Linked DNA regions of Homo sapiens: region 2 is linked to region 1. A link means that fine-mapping ties the variant in region 1 to the expression of a gene that starts in the linked region. Tissue or cell type: whole blood. Region 1 holds a variant in brackets; the other region holds the start of a gene. All regions are shown on one strand. Distances are from middle to middle.

Region 1 (8,103 bases):
GCAGGCGTGATCTACCACACCCAGCCAGGTCTTAGTTTTCTGAAACATTGGTTCAGTAAAACAAAACAAAAACAAGCAAACAAACAAATAGTTGCCCTGGTTATGTTGGAAGACAGCCTATTTCCTGTTGTGTTTCTGGCTTACTGCAGTGAATTTGCCAGGTCACTTAAAGACCAAAAACCCTATCTTCATCTGGCAGGAGGTAGTTTTTTGCCTTGTGTGGACCTCAAATTGTGTTAGAGATTCACAAGATTATATTTATCAAAATAACACCACAATGCTATGTGAATCTAAGGTGGTATTAACGGCACAACCTCTTGTACTTCTGGATGACTTTAGAATTTATAGACATTCCTGTTTGAACTTTAAAATCCATTCTGCAACTAGTCAACAATTGTTGCCCCTTTTTTAGGTATGTGATCAATCAGAATATGAATTAGAGAAAAACAAATGTGTAAATTATTGATTTTTTAGGAGAAAAGCAATGCAGTAAAACATAAAATAGCACTCCTCAAAAAACATAAAAAGCATAAAGAAGTTGCCATACTTATTCCCTCTTTAGCATATATACTAAATATAAACATGCTAGAGAGCTTTAGAAAAGTCTCCTTAGGTCAGTGGTTCATATGCCTTTTTAGTGCATGAACCCCATTGAGAACTGGGTTTAAAAATTCATGGATTTCCCAGCCAGGCACCGTGGTTCATGCCCATAATCCCAGCACTTTGGGAGGCTGAGGCGGGTGGATTGCTTGAGTCAAGGAGTTCAAGAATAGCCTGGGCAATGTGGTGAGACCTCCTATCTACAAAAAAAATACAAAAATTAGCCAAGCATGGTGGTGCACGCCTGTAGTCCCAGCTACTTGAGAGGCTGAGGTAAGAGGATTGCTTGAACCCAGGAGGTTGAGGCTGCAGTGAGCCAGGATCGTGCCACTGCACTCCAGCCTGGGTGACAGAGCGAGACCTGGTCTCAAAAAAAGAAAAAAAAAAAATGAATTTCTCATCCCCTCCTCAAAAAAAAAAAAATGTGTATATGAGATGAGCAGAGGTTCCCACAAGGGTCATCCAAATAATGTAAATTGGCCCAAGTGCAGACAGTATAGAATGGTGTGTCAAACTAGAAGGTACACGCCACGTTAAGGCAGTAGGGAATGGTGGAGGTTTATACAAACTAGGATGCACATTGCTTACCTAAAGTCAATTCAATTCAGAACATTAAAAAGCACCCGCGGAATACATTTGAGGTAAATCTGGCCCCTAGGCATCCCAGTGTGCAGTTCTAGGCTTTTATTGATTGCACCCAGGCTTTTATCTATGGTGTATAAACGTAGGAGTATTCTTGTTTTTGCCCTAAGGCCCGACAACAAGCTCAAATACGTCACCAAATGGCAGAGGACAGCAAAGCAGATTACTCATCCATTCTCCAGAAATTCAACCATGAGCAGCATGAATATTACCATACTCACATCCCCAACATCTTCCAGGTAAGTCCTGAACATCTCTCAGATTTCATGTTTTATGCTTTGCTTTCCTTAGAAACATGACACTTCTGAATCGTGATTGCTGGGTTTGTATTCTGAGTCTGAGTCTTTATATAATTCCAAATTTCCACTAATTTTTTTTTTTTTTTTTTTTTTTTTTGAGACAGAGTCTTGCTTTGTCACCCAGGCTGGAGTGCAATGGCACAGTCTCGGCTCATTGCAACCCCTGCCTCCTAGGTTCAAGTGACTCTCCTGCCTCAGCCTCCCGAGTAGCTGGGACTACAGGCACGTACCACTGGGCCCGGCTAATTTTTGTATTTTTAGTAGAGACGGGGTTTTGCCATGTTGGCCAGGCTGGTCTCAAAGTCATGACCTCAGGTGATCTGCCTACCTCGGCCTCCCAAAGTGGTGGGATTACAGGCCTGAGCCACCATGCCTGGCCCTTTTTTTTGTTTTGTTTTGTTTTTGTTTTTTGAGACAGTCTCACTCTGTTGCCCAGGCTGGAGTGCAGTGCACAATCACGACCCACTGCAGCTTTGAACTCCTGGGCTCAAAGGATCAAGGGATCCTCCAAGTTCAGCCTCCTAAGTAGATGGAACTACAGGCATGCACCACCATGCCCTGCTAATTTTTAAATTTTTTATAGAGATAGGGTCTTGCTGTGTTGCCCAGGATGGTCTCAAATTCCTGGACTCAAACAGTTCTCCAGCCTTGGCCTCCCAAAGTGCTAGGATTATAGGCATGATAAATCATTTTTTAAAGCATCTAGATCAAGCATTGACTAGCAATATGAATGAAATATAATAATCTCAAGATTAATCAATAACTTTGCAAATTTCTATAGTTTGCACCTGCAGCCAATTATTTGTCAGTCTTTTTTCTTTTTTTCTTTTTTTCTTTTTTTTTTTTGAGATGGAGTCTTGCTCTGTCACCCAGGCTGGAATGCAGTGGCATGATCTCAGCTCACTGCAACCTTCACCTCCTGGGTTCCGGCGAATCTCCTGCCTCAGCCTCCTGAGTAGCTGGGATTACAGGCACCTGCCACCATACCTGGCTACCTTTTTTGTATTTTTAGTAGAGACGGGGTTTCACCATGTTGGCCAGGCTGGTCGTGAACTCCTGACCTCAGGTGATCCGCCCGCCTTGGCCTCCCAAAGTGCTGGGATTACAGGCGTGAGCCACAGCGCCTATTTGTCAGTCTTAAACTATGATTCTGTGATTAATGCTGTCTTTGCTAAAGGGATGATTGTGGTTATAAAAATGCCAACTTAACTATAGAAGTCAAAGCAGCATTCATAGAGTTATAGGATTTAAACAAATGACAGTTCTTTCTTTTGGATTGTTTTCTTTTGCTCATGTTAGGTTGTCAAAAATGGTATGAGAAAAGATAGACATATGTTCTTCCATTTTACAGATTTTTTGCAACTTTGAGTCCAATTGTAGAAAAAATAAATAATATATTTGCTTCTTGGTGTCTACACACACAGCAAACAAGTCCTTGTAAATTATAGTTGGAAGATACACTAGCATGTATTGGGCTGAGGCAGTTAATTAAATACTGTGCTTTTGGTAAAAGGTAAAGTAGTAGATTAAAGATGGAGAAAACGTTTGAGGTAGATTACAAATAGTGTTAGTAATAAAACTATTGGCCAGGTGTGGTGGCTCAAGCCTGTAATCCCAGCACTTTGGAGGCCTAGGCAGGTGGATCACCTGAGGTAAGGAGTTGGAGACCAGCCTGGCCAACATGGCGAAACCCCATCTGTACTAAAAATACAAAAAATTAGCCAAGTGTGGTGGCGGGGGGAGGGGGGGTGGGGCCTGTAATCCCAGCTACTTGGGAGGCTGACGCAGGAGAATCACTTGAACCTGGAGGCAGAGGTTGCAGTGAGCTGAGATCACACCACTGCACTCCAGCCTGGGTGACAAGAGCAAAACTCCGTCTCAAAAAAACAAAAAGAAAAACAAAAAAGAACTATTGAGTTTGGCATTCTTACTAAAATTAGAATGGAATTGTGCAAAGCATATATTTGGGCAGCCTAACATGTCTAGCAATTTATAAAATAAATGTACAGCTGGGTAATATGGAGGCTCCGTGTACTTAGAGCCGCTCTAACTCTAACCCATTTTTTCCTCAAAGAGAACTTGTTAGAGGTAACAATGCTGCCGAAAAACAACTTTGTTTAATAATAATGGACCAAACTTACTTTATACAAAATCTAATGTTGCAGAAAATACAAGAGATGGAGGAAAGGAGGATTGTGAGAATGGGAGAGTCCATGAAGACATATGCAGAGGTTGATCGGCAGGTGATCCCAATCATTGGGAAGTGCCTGGATGGAATAGTAAAAGCAGCCGAATCAATTGATCAGAAAAATGTAAGTATTGCCATTTGGACTTCATTGATAACTATTTGCAGATCCATTATTTCTCCCCATCCCCTTTCCATTTGACCTCATGTCATCATCTCATGGTGGATGGTTGCTTTTGGTGGTCACACATGCTCTGTGTCTTGGATTTAGCTGTATAATTCCTTTTTTGGTAAACACATTTAAGTGGTAAATTGTCCGAGACATGACAGAATTGAATTGAAGTATTTCCTGGAAAAAAGGTAAAGGCTTTGTTTCCTCTAAGGCAGGGTTTCTTTCTCTTTTTCTTTTTCTTTTTCTTTTTTTTTTTTTCTTTTTGAGATGGAATCTCGCTCTGTTGCCCAGGCTGCAGTGCAGTGGCGTGATCTTGGGTCACTGCAACCTCCACCTCCCGGGTTCAAGCGATTCTCCTGCCTCAGCCTCCTGAGTAGCTGGGACTACAGGCGCCCGCACCACGCCCAGCTAATTTCTGTATTTTTAGCAGAGACGGGGTTTCACCATATTGGCCAGGCTGGTCTCGAACTCCTGACCTCAGGTAATCCGCCCGCCTCAGCCTCCCAAAGTGTTAGGATTACAGGTGTGAACCACTGCACCCGGCCAAAACAGGGTTCCTTCAGCACTTTTGACATTATCTCAGGCCAGATCATTTTTCTTGTTGGGGGCATTTCAGAATGTTTAGCAGCATCCTGGCCTCTACCCAGCAGAGGCCAGTAGCACTCCCCGAGTTGTGACAATCAAAAATGTCTCCACACATTGTCACATGTCCTCTGGGAGGGCAAAAGCTTCTCTGGTTGAGAATACTGCTTTAGGGCAGTGTTCTCCATTTGAATTCCTAGAGACCTATTTCTCAAAAAAATATAAACTAGAACACCAGCATAGGCTTTTACTGTTAATTTGAAGACACAAATATTCAACATAAAAGTTATGCTGCTGGCTGGGCACAGTGGCTCACATTTGTAATCCCAGCACTTTGGGAGGCCGGAGCGGGTGGATCACTTGATGCCAGGAGTTCAAGACCAGCCTGGCCAACATGGTGAAACCACATCTCTACTAAAAATACAAAAATTAGCTGGGTGTGGTGGTATGCCCCTGTAGTCCCAGCTACTCGGGAGGCTGAGGCACGAGAATTGCTGGAACTCAGGAGGCAGGGATTGCAGTGAGCCAAGATCA[C/T]GCCACTGCACTCCAGTCTGAGTGACAGAGCGAGACTCTGTCTCAAAAACAAACAAAAAAATCAGAAAACAATAGTTCTAAATTCTAAAAGCTCGGATGAAAAGCTCAAATGATGGCTTTTGAGAAGAATGAAAAAAGCTGGCCAGCTGTGGTGACTCAAGCCTGTAATGCCAGCACTTTGGGAAGCCGAGGCAGGCGGATCACCTGAGGTCAAGAATTTGAGACCAGCCTGGCCAACATGGCGAAACCCCATCTCTACTAAAAATACAAAAATTAGCTAGGCATGATGGCACATGCCTGTAATCCCAGCTACTCGGGAGGCTGAGGCAGGAGAATCGCTTAAACCTGGGAGGCGGAGGTTGCGGTGAGCTGAGATCACGCCACTGCACTCCAGCCTGGGTAACAGATTGAGACTGTCTCAAAAAAAAAAAAAAAAAAAAAAAAGCTACTAGGAAAAAAGTTATTATCAATCAGTACAATTTCGTTAGTTATCATCTGTATGAGATCATCATAATTCATTGTTTTTTTGAGATGGAGTCTCACTCTGTCGCCCAGGCTGGAGTGCAGTGGCGCGAGCTCAGCTCACTGCAACCTCCGCCTCCTGGGTTCATGCCATTCTCCTGCCTCAGCCTCCTGAGTAGCTGGGACTACAGGCGCCCGCCACCACGCCTGGCTAATTTTTTGTATTTTTAGTAGAGACGGGGTTTCACCATGTTAGCCAGGATGGTCTTGATCTCCTGACCTCGTGATCCACCCGCCTCTGCCTCCCAGAGTGCTGGGATTACAGGCATGAGCCACCGCACCTGGCCAATTCATTGTTTAAAAAGTGTTTGCATGCTTCTGAATGTATTTATATGCTTGTGGGTATAATTTCAGGATTCACAGCTGGTAATAGAAGCTTATAAATCAGGGTTTGAGCCTCCTGGAGACATTGAATTTGAGGATTACACTCAGCCAATGAAGCGCACTGTGTCAGATAACAGCCTTTCAAATTCCAGAGGAGAAGGCAAACCAGACCTCAAATTTGGTGGCAAATCCAAAGGAAAGTTATGGCCGTTCATCAAAAAAAATAAGGTACTGATGGTTGGCGTGAAATGAGTTTTCTAAGGTGTGGAGATTTTGACTTGATCTTTTAGTCTTAGAAAAACTAAGATCCTAAACCTGTAGTTTCAGAATGCAAAAGAAGAAGCTAGTGTGCTACCTTATGTTGAGACAGTATTTCTTTTTGGTGGTGGTATCTTTGCCATGGCCCTGTGTCTTATTTCAGATGCATTATCCTCGTACCGTGACTCCCACACTAACAGAGTACTGACCTCTCCACCGTTTCGCCTCATGCCTTTCCCTCCTTCCTCTCCTAGACTGCTGGTTACCTTGGCTGGGAGAGAGGATGTAGTGGGACATTCCTGTAACACTTTATCCGCACATCTACTGGAAATCGTTACCATGTTAATAACTTGGTTTTGAATTCATGTTAACATGTGTACCCATGAACATTTTTCATTTTCTTTTCATAGTGCGATACATAGGTGCATGACAGCATTAACCTGGGGACGTAGAATATGATCAAGGCAGCATTACTGCTTTAACTTTAGAATGACTTACTATTTATTAATTTAAACAGACTGCTGTTTCCACAACCTTAGCATTGAAGGTCTTTCATTTTCTCCCATCAAGCTATGTTAGTTTAGGTAATGTAGAAATATTTACCCTCTGGCTTAAGCTGGTTTAGAGTAACTAACTAGAGCTATAGTTTGCATGGGAAAGTCTGCACGAGCTTCTTGTCAGATATTTCTTGCTCTTCTGTCGCATTACTTACTAAACCTCCCAACTCTCATCATATTCTTCATTTAACCACCTCCTACATGTTTTCTTTTGGACCATGGCCTAAAATTTAATTGTTTGTGTTTTACTTGCGTTGGATTTCAAATATTATTTGATGCTTATTTTTGTTTTGTGTCTTCTTGTTTCTGATTTTTACTCTGTCACGGCTCCATCTCTTACATGTAGCTTATGTCCCTTTTAACATCCCCCCATCAGCCTCCCCCTCCCCCTCCTGCCTCTGCCTCACCCTCTGCTGTTCCCAACGGCCCCCAGTCTCCCAAGCAGCAAAAGGAACCCCTCTCCCATCGCTTCAACGAGTTCATGACCTCCAAACCCAAAATCCACTGCTTCAGGAGCCTAAAGCGTGGGGTAAGTTCTGCTCCGGAATCCTGTCTCTCTGGCGTGCTTTGGTTGCATGTTTGGTTCTGCATAACTAATTTTGTTTGTGAATGAATCCATTGTGTTTTCCCATAACATATAAAAAAGTTAAAAAAAAAAAAACAAAAACCATTATAGCTAGAAAGAAAAGCCAGAAAGAGGAAGAAAGAAAGAAGGAAGCATGGTGGTTGGAAGAAAGGAGAAAACCAGACAGCCCAGAGTTCTTTCTATTTGTTTCTTTCTTTTTTTTTTTTTTCCAGACAGAGTCTCGCTCTGTCACCAGGCTGGAGTGCAGTGGCGTGATCTCGGCTCCCTGCAACCTCCACCTCCCGGGTTTAAGCGATTCTCCTGCCTCGGCCTCCTGATTAGCTGTGATTACAGGCATATGCCACCACGCCCAGCTACTTTTTATATTTTTAGTAGAGACAGCATTTCATCATGTTGGCCAGGATGGTCTCGATCTCTTGACCTTGTGATCCGCCCGCCTCGGCCTTACAAAGTGCTGGGATTACAGGTGTGAGCCACTGCGCCCGGCCTTTTTCTTTTCGTTTCTAGTACATTTTGGAAGGACTTTACCCCTCTTCCTCTTTAAAGCATCCAAGTCATGCATTTTCTACCTTAATTTTACCAAAAAAAACCACTTAGATTTCATTTCTAAAACTAGCGACCTGAGACTGGGCGTGATAGTTCACATCTGTAATCCTAGCACTTTAGGAGGCCAAGGCAGGAGGATTGCTTGAGCTCAGGAGTTCAAAACCAGCTTGGACACCATAGTGAGACCCCCATCTCTTAAAAAAATATATAAAAATTAATAGGACAAGCGCAGTGTCTCATGCCTGTAATCCTGGCACTTTGGAAGGCCGAGGCAGGAAGATTACTTGAGCTCAGGA
Region 2 (8,103 bases), 120 kb before region 1:
AAGTGCTGGGATTACAGGCGTGAGCCACCACGTCCGGCCAACTCTCTAGGGACTTTTATGTGTTTAGCTATCTGGAAGTTCTCAGAACTTTGTTTTTTGGAGTTTTAATAGAGGCTTTATTTTATGTAGTCATGATTGATTAAGCTATTGACCATTACTGAACAACTTAACTTTCAGCGCCTCTCCCCAGTCCCCGGAGGTTGGAGTGACAGTGTGGGTGCAGATAAAAGTCCCACACCTCTAATCTTGTCTTGGTCTTTATGGTGACCAGTCCCATCTTGAGGTACTAATACTTAGGGACTGTCAGCCATCAGTCATCTCATTAGTATATAAAAAGACATCATTTTGGGGTTTTTAAGGATTTTAGGAGCTATACTTCAGGAAACAAGGTTGACGACAAAATATATATTTTGTAATATCACACCAAGATCATAATTTTGTAAATCAGTGTTCCCTAGATTTTACTGAGAGGTGAAACCAGTATCTGCAACCCAGATTAACCCCCTAGATAATATCAGCGTTTACATAGAGTTTAGAGTACCCCTGGTGAAAACTGATTCCTAAGTAGGTCAGGTCACAGTAGTTTGTTAATGGGGATACTTCCTTGTCTTAGAATCACTTCCTCCTGCTCTGAAGGGAAACTGAAATGGATTTAGTTCTTCCTAAAAAATGCTGTGCTATATTTTAGCCTTTTTTCTGCTGGCTTATTTCATTTTATCTCATGGCTTCATGATCATTGGTGTCTCTCTCCTTTATTTTTTGAAGATTCTGACACTTTCAAGCATTTTCCAGTTACTGCCAAAGCTTAATGAAGTTAAAGATATTTGCAGTGTTGTATAATTAACTCACATCCATAGAGTTCTGCGGCAGCTTTTAATGGGTTCCTTCCTATAACTAACAATCTCCTGCTTACTCGTCTTAAAAAGTTTCATCTTCATGTGGTCTCTTTTTTTCTTCTGCTGTCCCTTCCTCTTCCTCTTTCTCCTCTTTAAAGCAGCAGGTTGTTTTACTTCTTGATTAGAGTATTTTCACAAGTGGTCACTGTTTTTGAGAAGTCTCCAATAACTTGGTCAAGATTAGATCATTGTATTTGACTAAAAAGTCAAGCCCTGGCAGGAAGGTGATTACTGAGGCAATGTCTTGTTAGATAAACCTGCATTGCATGTACCGTTTCCAAATTTTAGCAGACTAAACTGTGCAGCATTGTTTGAATTTCCCCCTCCAACTCACTCTGGCTATTAATCTGCCTTAGGAGATAGGTAGCTGGCCGTTCTCATTGTTATATATCTAGCAGTCTCTGGAGGAAAGAGAATTCAGACCTGGTAACTGAGAGCAAAATATTTATACAGACACAAGAATGGGGGTGGGCAGGAAGGGAGGGTTGTAACTGAAAAAAGGCAGACCAAAACAGTTTTGACAACTTAAATTTATTGTAACTGCCCAACAAAGGAAGTAGAGTTGGAGGTTTATCTGCAAGAGGTTTTTTTTTGTTTTGTTTTTTGTTTAGTAGCTCCACCTCTTAATTTATTATTATTATTCATTTTATTTTATTTTTTGAGACAGTCTCGCTCTGTCACCCAGGCTGGAGTGCAGTGGCACAATCTTGGCTCACTCCAACTTCTGCCTCCCGGGTTCAAGCGATTCTCTTGCCTCAGCCTCCTGAGTAGCTGGGATTACAGGCGCCCTGTCACCACGCCCAGCTAACTTTTGTGTTTTTAGTAGAGACGGGGTTTCTCCATGTTGGCCAGGCTGCTCTCAAACTCCTGACCTCAGATGATCCACTCACTTCTGCCTCCCAAAGTGTTGGGATTACAGGCGTGAGCCACCATGCCCGGCTTTAATTCATTATTGTTAATATTTTTGAGACAGGGTCTTGCTCTGTTGCTCAAGCTGGAGGGCAATGGCACCATCATGGCTCACTGCAACTTCAACCTTCTAGGCTCAAGCGATCCTCCTGTCTCAGTCTCCCAAGTAGCTGGGACCACAGGTGCATGCCACCATGCCCAGCTAACTTTTTTTTTTTTCTTTTTGTAGAGACAGGGTCTTGCGATGTTGCCCAGGCTGGTCTCAAATTCCTGGCCTCCAGCCATCCTCCCACCTGGGCCTCCTGATGTGCTGGGATTACAGGCGTGAGCCACCAGACCCGGGTTAGCTCCACCTTTTAATGGAGGAGAATGATAAGCAGGTTGAAAATGGTGGGGTGGGATTGGAGAAATGCATCATCGTAAAATATTTTTTAACTGGGGGCCCATGTTGGGAGTCGCACGGTTTCTCAGAAAAGGATCCAGTAGTAGCATTAACCGAGGGAGAAAGATAAGCTGTGGGGAAAGGGCTAGTGATTCAGGAGTTGGAATTCCAAACATTTTCCATAGCTTGTCAGGAACATTTGTGCAGACCTTTGGATATATAGAGAGGGAGTCCGTCTGCTGATAAAATGAGCGCTGGGTTTACCAACCTTCGGCCTTGGCCCACCCCTGATCCTCACCGCCGGGCAGTGAGATGGACACGTTATTTGCCTCCATTTGGTGGACTGCGCTCTGCGCTTCCAGAGGTGGAGCAATTGTCCGCCTCCGCCCGGCCAGCACGTGCGGGAGGCTGGATTTGAACCAAACAAGTTATCTGTGTACCCCACGCCTTTGCTTTTACCCACTAGGCGGTAACGTGATTTCACGCCTGAGAGTTTCTTGGCTGAACAAGTTGGAAATCACTGGTTTCAGAGATTGGAAATCACTGGGTGCACGCCCCTGGATTCTTTCCCTAGCCACTCGAGGCCGTCGCGCTTGCCTCGACGTCTCTATTCGCACAGCGCGCAGTTACCACCGCCCCACTCCCACCGCGCCAGCCTGCGGGACTCTCGGGCTTCCCTCGGGCGGTGGGAAAAGAGCCTCCCGGGCTGACTCTGCTCGGCGCGCATGGCTGCCAGGGGAAAGTATTGTCCTTAAATCCAGAGCGGCGATACGCGCAGGGGAGCGATCTCAGACCGCGGCGGAGCATCGGTGATCCCAGGGCCTGCCGCGTTCCAAGGCAAGCGCTAGTACTGCGAGCAGACAGTGGTCACTAAGAAGTCATTACCAGATTGGCAGGGGGAGTCCTAGGGATCCGGGTCCCGCCGTCCCTCACACCTCCCTCCGCGTCCTTCCGGACCCCAGGGCGACGCGGACCCGGCCGGGGGAGCCCGGGGGAGGGGGCCGGGCCGGGGTGGGGCGGGCGCGCGTGCGCGAGCTGTCAGACCGGCCCCGCCCCTCCCCTCCCGCCCCTCCCCCGCTCTCCGGGTGTAGGGCGGGCGGGCGCTGCGGCGGCCGCGGCTGCTGCTTCCTCGGGCCATTTTGCTGTGGAGCGGCGGGGAGGAGGAGCCGCCGAGGAGACCCCGGGCGAGGAGCTGCGAGCCGGAGGAGGCCGCGCGGACTCCGGGCTTTCCGCCGTCGCGGGGATCTCGGGGGGCAAAGGGATCGCCGGGGAGGGGGACCAGAGAGCCGCGCCCGCCGCGCGGAGCGCCCCTTCGCGTCCCCTGCACCATGAGCTGGGGCACCGAGCTCTGGGTGAGTGAGGGGCTGGGCCCGCGGGCAGATGCGGGGCGCGCGCTGCGTTTCCCCGCGGCCTGGGGAGGGGGCGCGGGCCGCGCTGCTGGGCGGAGGCGAGGGCGCGCTGGTCGGGGTCCTCGCGGCCTGGGGAGGAGGCGGGGTTCCAATGCCCCTCGTCCGCCTTGGCCCGAGCAGGAGGTGCGGGCCGGCTTGTCCTTCGGAGGCGAGGGGAGTTGGTGCGGGTCCCCGGCGGCCTGAGGAACGGCGCGGGCGGGCCTCCCTGTCCCCGGCGCCCCGGAGCGGGCCGTGTGTGTCGGGCCGAGCCCTAATCCCCCGGGGCGAGCCGCGGATGCCCGGGGAGGGCCGGGACCGGGCGTGGGGGCGTGGAGGCCCCGGCTGCGCGGCGCTGCGTTGGGTCTCGGGGCGCCCCGGCCGCGAGTTCTGTCCTGGCTCCGCGGAGGCGCTGGCGGATCGGGCACTTCCCCGGGAGCGGGGCGGCCGGGGCGAGCGCCGGGGGTCGGGTTTTGGGGTGCTGGGGCGAGAGTGCGGTCTTCGCTCTGGAGGCGAGGACTTCTGGCCCGTGGCGGCTCCGGGCGCACTTGTTCTTTCGGGGTAGCTCAATCCTGAGTGGGATGTGGGCACTGCGACGTCTGGTCTGGAGGGGAAAGTGGGAGTTAGGGAGAGATCTTACGTGATCTACCTCAGGAAGAGGCGTTCGCGGGGTCAATGATCTTTAACGGTTGCTCGGAGAATAGTTTCCAGTGGGGAAAGTTGGCGGTGAGGGGCGCCTTGCGGGGATGCTTGGCCGGGGGATGCGCACGGTAAACGGGCAGCCCTCAGGGCTGAGGGCCGTCCCCGGAAAGGCGAGGGGCTGGCTGTGGATGGAGCTCTTTTCCTGCCGTCCCCGGATTCCTGGGGAAATCACTGGGCAGGGGATGGGCAGTGCGGCGGCCCGGGAAGGAGCAGACGAAATCTCAGTTACTGCACTGAAATGCCCTCAAGATGAGCCATTTCCCAGGATGAACTCTAAAGTGCCTGAACTACCTTTTGGAATTCTATTTGCAAAGGGTGTGGAGGAGAAAGTGTAGGGTGGTGTTGCTATCTGAGATGAGGCCAAGAAATCTCATATCAAAATAAAACAAGGTTAGAGCAATTACAGAAACAGAGCACATCCTCCCTTGTTTTTTGTTTTGTTTTCTTTTGCTTTAATTGTTTTTACATAACCATTTGTTAGGTACAGAAGCAGCTACGGTTGTTATTACCAAAATCCTGAGGGCAATAGCTCCCTTAAATTAAGATAATTCATTTTATAAACATCTTCTGCCTAAAAGGGATTCATGACAAAATTTCCGCTGATGTTTACAAGTATCCATTTTGAAAATAAAATAGTTTAAAATATTTGCACACACCAGTTTAGGCAAAATCTATGACTTTGAGTACCGTATTGAAGTTTCTTTCCTCTTCTAATCCTTCCACTCCCTTTAGCTCTCTTTAGCTTATCTGGGGTGGGGAAGCAAATCAGAAGTAATCTTTGTCAAGACAGTAGAAATTGTGGCACAATTTTTTTTTCACTTGTTCAGACAGGTGGATGGAATTATGGAGGGAAAATGTACAATATATTTCTGAGTGAAATAGGGACCGAACACAATACCTTGGTGGACAGTTCAGTGATGTTGGTGAATGGGATAGAATATAATTCCAAAGAGAGGCAGTGGCTATGAGCAAAACTGCTAAAACAGCGGCAATTGCTTGCATTATTCTGTACATTTCTTTTTGAGGGTGCAGAAGTGGGAAGGAAGGCAGGGTTAGGAGTGATTGAAAATAAATGAGAGAGGCCGGGCGCAGTGGCTCAGGCCTATATTGCCAGCACCTTGGGAGGCTGAGTCGGGAGGATCTTTTGGGCCCAGGAGTTCAAGAACAGCTTGGGGAATATCTGGAGAGGCCTCCTCTTAAAAAAAAAAAAAAGAAAAGAAAAAAGAAAAAAGAAAAAAATAATAAATGGGAACTGGAATATATACAAATATTAATGATATGAAATCTTATATTTGCTTCACAATAATTTGGGTTGTTAGTAGATGGGAGATAGTGAGACAGAGTTGGCCATTATTGAAGCCAAATGCTGAGTACAGAAGTATTCATTACACTATTCTTTCTAGTATATATATTTGACATTTTCTACAATAAAAATAATTGGAAAATAGTTTTAAAGGAGAAGGATGTGAACTATTTGTAATTTTTTCACTTGACAATTTTATGAGGAAGAATGAATCAGTTAACAGTTCTATATATGCAAGTGTATGGCAATGAGGAGTTTTTAAAAAGACATTCTTTTTTTTTTTTTTTCTGAGACGGAGTCTTGCTCTGTTGCCTGCCCAGGCTGGCGTGCAGTGGCGTGATCTCGGCTCACTGCAGCCTCTGCCTCCCAGGTTCAAACGATTCTCCTGCCTCAGCCTCCCAAGTAGCTGGGACTACACGCGCCTGCCACCATGCCCAGCTAATTTTTTTGTGTATTTAGTAGAGACGGGGTTTCGCCGTGTTGGCCAGGCTGGTCTCAAACTCCTGATGTCAGGTAATCCGCCTGCCTCAGCCTCCCAAAGTGCTGGGATCGCAGGCGTGAGCCACCACGCTTGACGTTAAAAAAGACATTCTTATGAGTACCAGCATTTGCCTTTGAGTAGCTTACAGTTTAATATAGGAAAAGGAATGAACACATGATTGTGCTACTAAGAGAAATGCAAAATCTAAGTTTTCAGGTGAAATGCAAAGATGTATAAGGCTTAGTAGCTTTTGAGATTTAAAAAAACTAGAATAATGAAGGATTATGAAAAGTAAACCCCAGTTTCTCCGGTGGTCAGAGACTTGGTGATGTGCGGTACATTGGGTAGCCCAGCGGAGGGCAGTGATTAAGGGTTTTCCTTGAATGGTGGCTTTGGAATCATGCACATGTATAATGAGATAATGATGGGGCGCTCAAGCCAAACTTGGCAGAATTATTCTTCTAGATGGAGAAAGAGCTATGGTTTGGGTGGCCATGAATTATTTGTAACAGGTGGTTGCAGCTTTCAGGGACCTTCACAAATACTATCAGATTTTACATACATTTTAGGACTTCAGGTTAAAATCAATATAGGCTTTTAGAAACTACAGGTTTCTAATGTGCATTTTACACTGAAGACCTGCTCCTAAGCCACATCCTGCTTTGTAGAGGGAGTAAAACCTTTCTCTTCCTCTTTCTTTTTTACTTTTTCTTTAACCCCTCCATAGAAATAAACTTTCTTTTTTTTTTTTTTTTTGAGACAAAGCTTCGCTCTTGTTGCCCAGGCTGGAGTGCACTGTCACGATCTTGGCTCACTGCAACTTTCACTTCCCAGGTTCTAGTGATTCTCTTGCCTTAGCCTCCTGAGTAGCTGGGACTACAGGTGTGCATTATCACACCTGGCTAATTTTTTCTATTTTTAGTAGAGATGGGGTTTCACCATGTTGGCCAGGCTGGTCTCGAACTCCTGACCTCAAGTGATCTGCCCGCCTCGGCCTCCCAAAGTGCTGGGATTACAGGCGCGAGCTACCTCGCCCAGGCTTACATGGCCATTTTGAAGTGATTGGGTTCTAATAAAATAGTTTACAACTCTTCATAACATAGCTCTTCATAACATTGCCTTTTAATCAATTTTCAAAATTTTTATTGAACAACTATGGTGTGCACAAGACACCAGTCTGAATCTGTTGTAAGTTACATTATATACATTGAAAGATATCTACGTGGAAGCATAGAAAGTAGGTTTTACCTCTAGCTTGTAACATCAGAGTCAAAAGAAAAATGTTTGTATGTAAAATTAACCAAAATACATTTACTCAAGACTTGTTAAAAAGGCAGTGTTAGTAAGGTAAATATGTTCACTGACTTGTTGAAGTTGTGGCTGGTTGTTGGAGAAATGGCAAAGCAAGAGTTGCTTACATTTGAATGTTTTTTTTTTCTTGCCTACTTACTGAGGGAAGTGACAGGTTACTGAAGTGTTAGTTCAGCTTTTTATTAGCTTGCTTATTAGTGTGAAGTATGAATAAATCCATTGGAAAATTAAGCCTTCCTCGTAATTATTCTCTTTGCAGCTAACAAATTATTCAGTGACAGAACCTGGTTTTGCTGCCTCCTAGTATCCTCTCTGTCTTTATTTATTTGCTCTGGTGCTAATGAGAAATGAAGTATGTACAAGAAAGAGAACAGAGAAACCTGAATAATGCATATTGGTTAGCATAGTAAGAAGCCACATGTGGGCTGGGCGCGGTGGGTGGCTGACGCCTGTAATCCCAGAACTTTGGGAGGCCAAGGCGGGCAGATCACGACATCAGGAGTTTGAGACCAGCCGGACCAAGATGGTGAAACCCCATCTCTACTAAAAATACAAAAATTAGCCGGGCGTGGTGGTCCACGCAGGTAATCCCAGCTACTCGGGAGGCTGAGGCGGAGAATCGCTTGAACCCGGGAGGCGGAGGTTGCAGTGAGCCGAGATGGCGCCATTGCACTCCGCCCTGGGCGACAGAGCGACTCTGTCTCAAAAAAAAAAAAAAAAAAGAGCCACCTGTG

The links. PIP is the estimated chance that this variant, and not a neighbour inherited with it, causes the effect.
Region 2: FNBP1 starts here. The variant in region 1 is fine-mapped to the expression of FNBP1 in whole blood (INTERVAL, PIP above 0.99).

What each region holds. Positions count from the first base shown.
Region 1 is chr9:129,922,945-129,931,047 of GRCh38, reverse strand. FNBP1 (formin binding protein 1) reads left to right here. Exons shown (of 17, transcript NM_015033.3): 7 at 1,353-1,481; 8 at 3,707-3,853; 9 at 5,891-6,088; 10 at 7,022-7,204. Among named protein-coding and RNA genes, the nearest start is that of MIR6855, 57 kb to the right of the region's middle. The variant C/T (reference allele first, on the strand shown) is at 5,015.
Region 2 is chr9:130,038,388-130,046,490 of GRCh38, reverse strand. FNBP1 (formin binding protein 1) reads left to right here and starts at 3,302. Exons shown (of 17, transcript NM_015033.3): 1 at 3,302-3,539. The coding sequence starts at 3,516. RefSeq lists silencers at 3,040-3,599, 3,780-3,939, 5,983-6,032 and an enhancer at 6,943-7,062.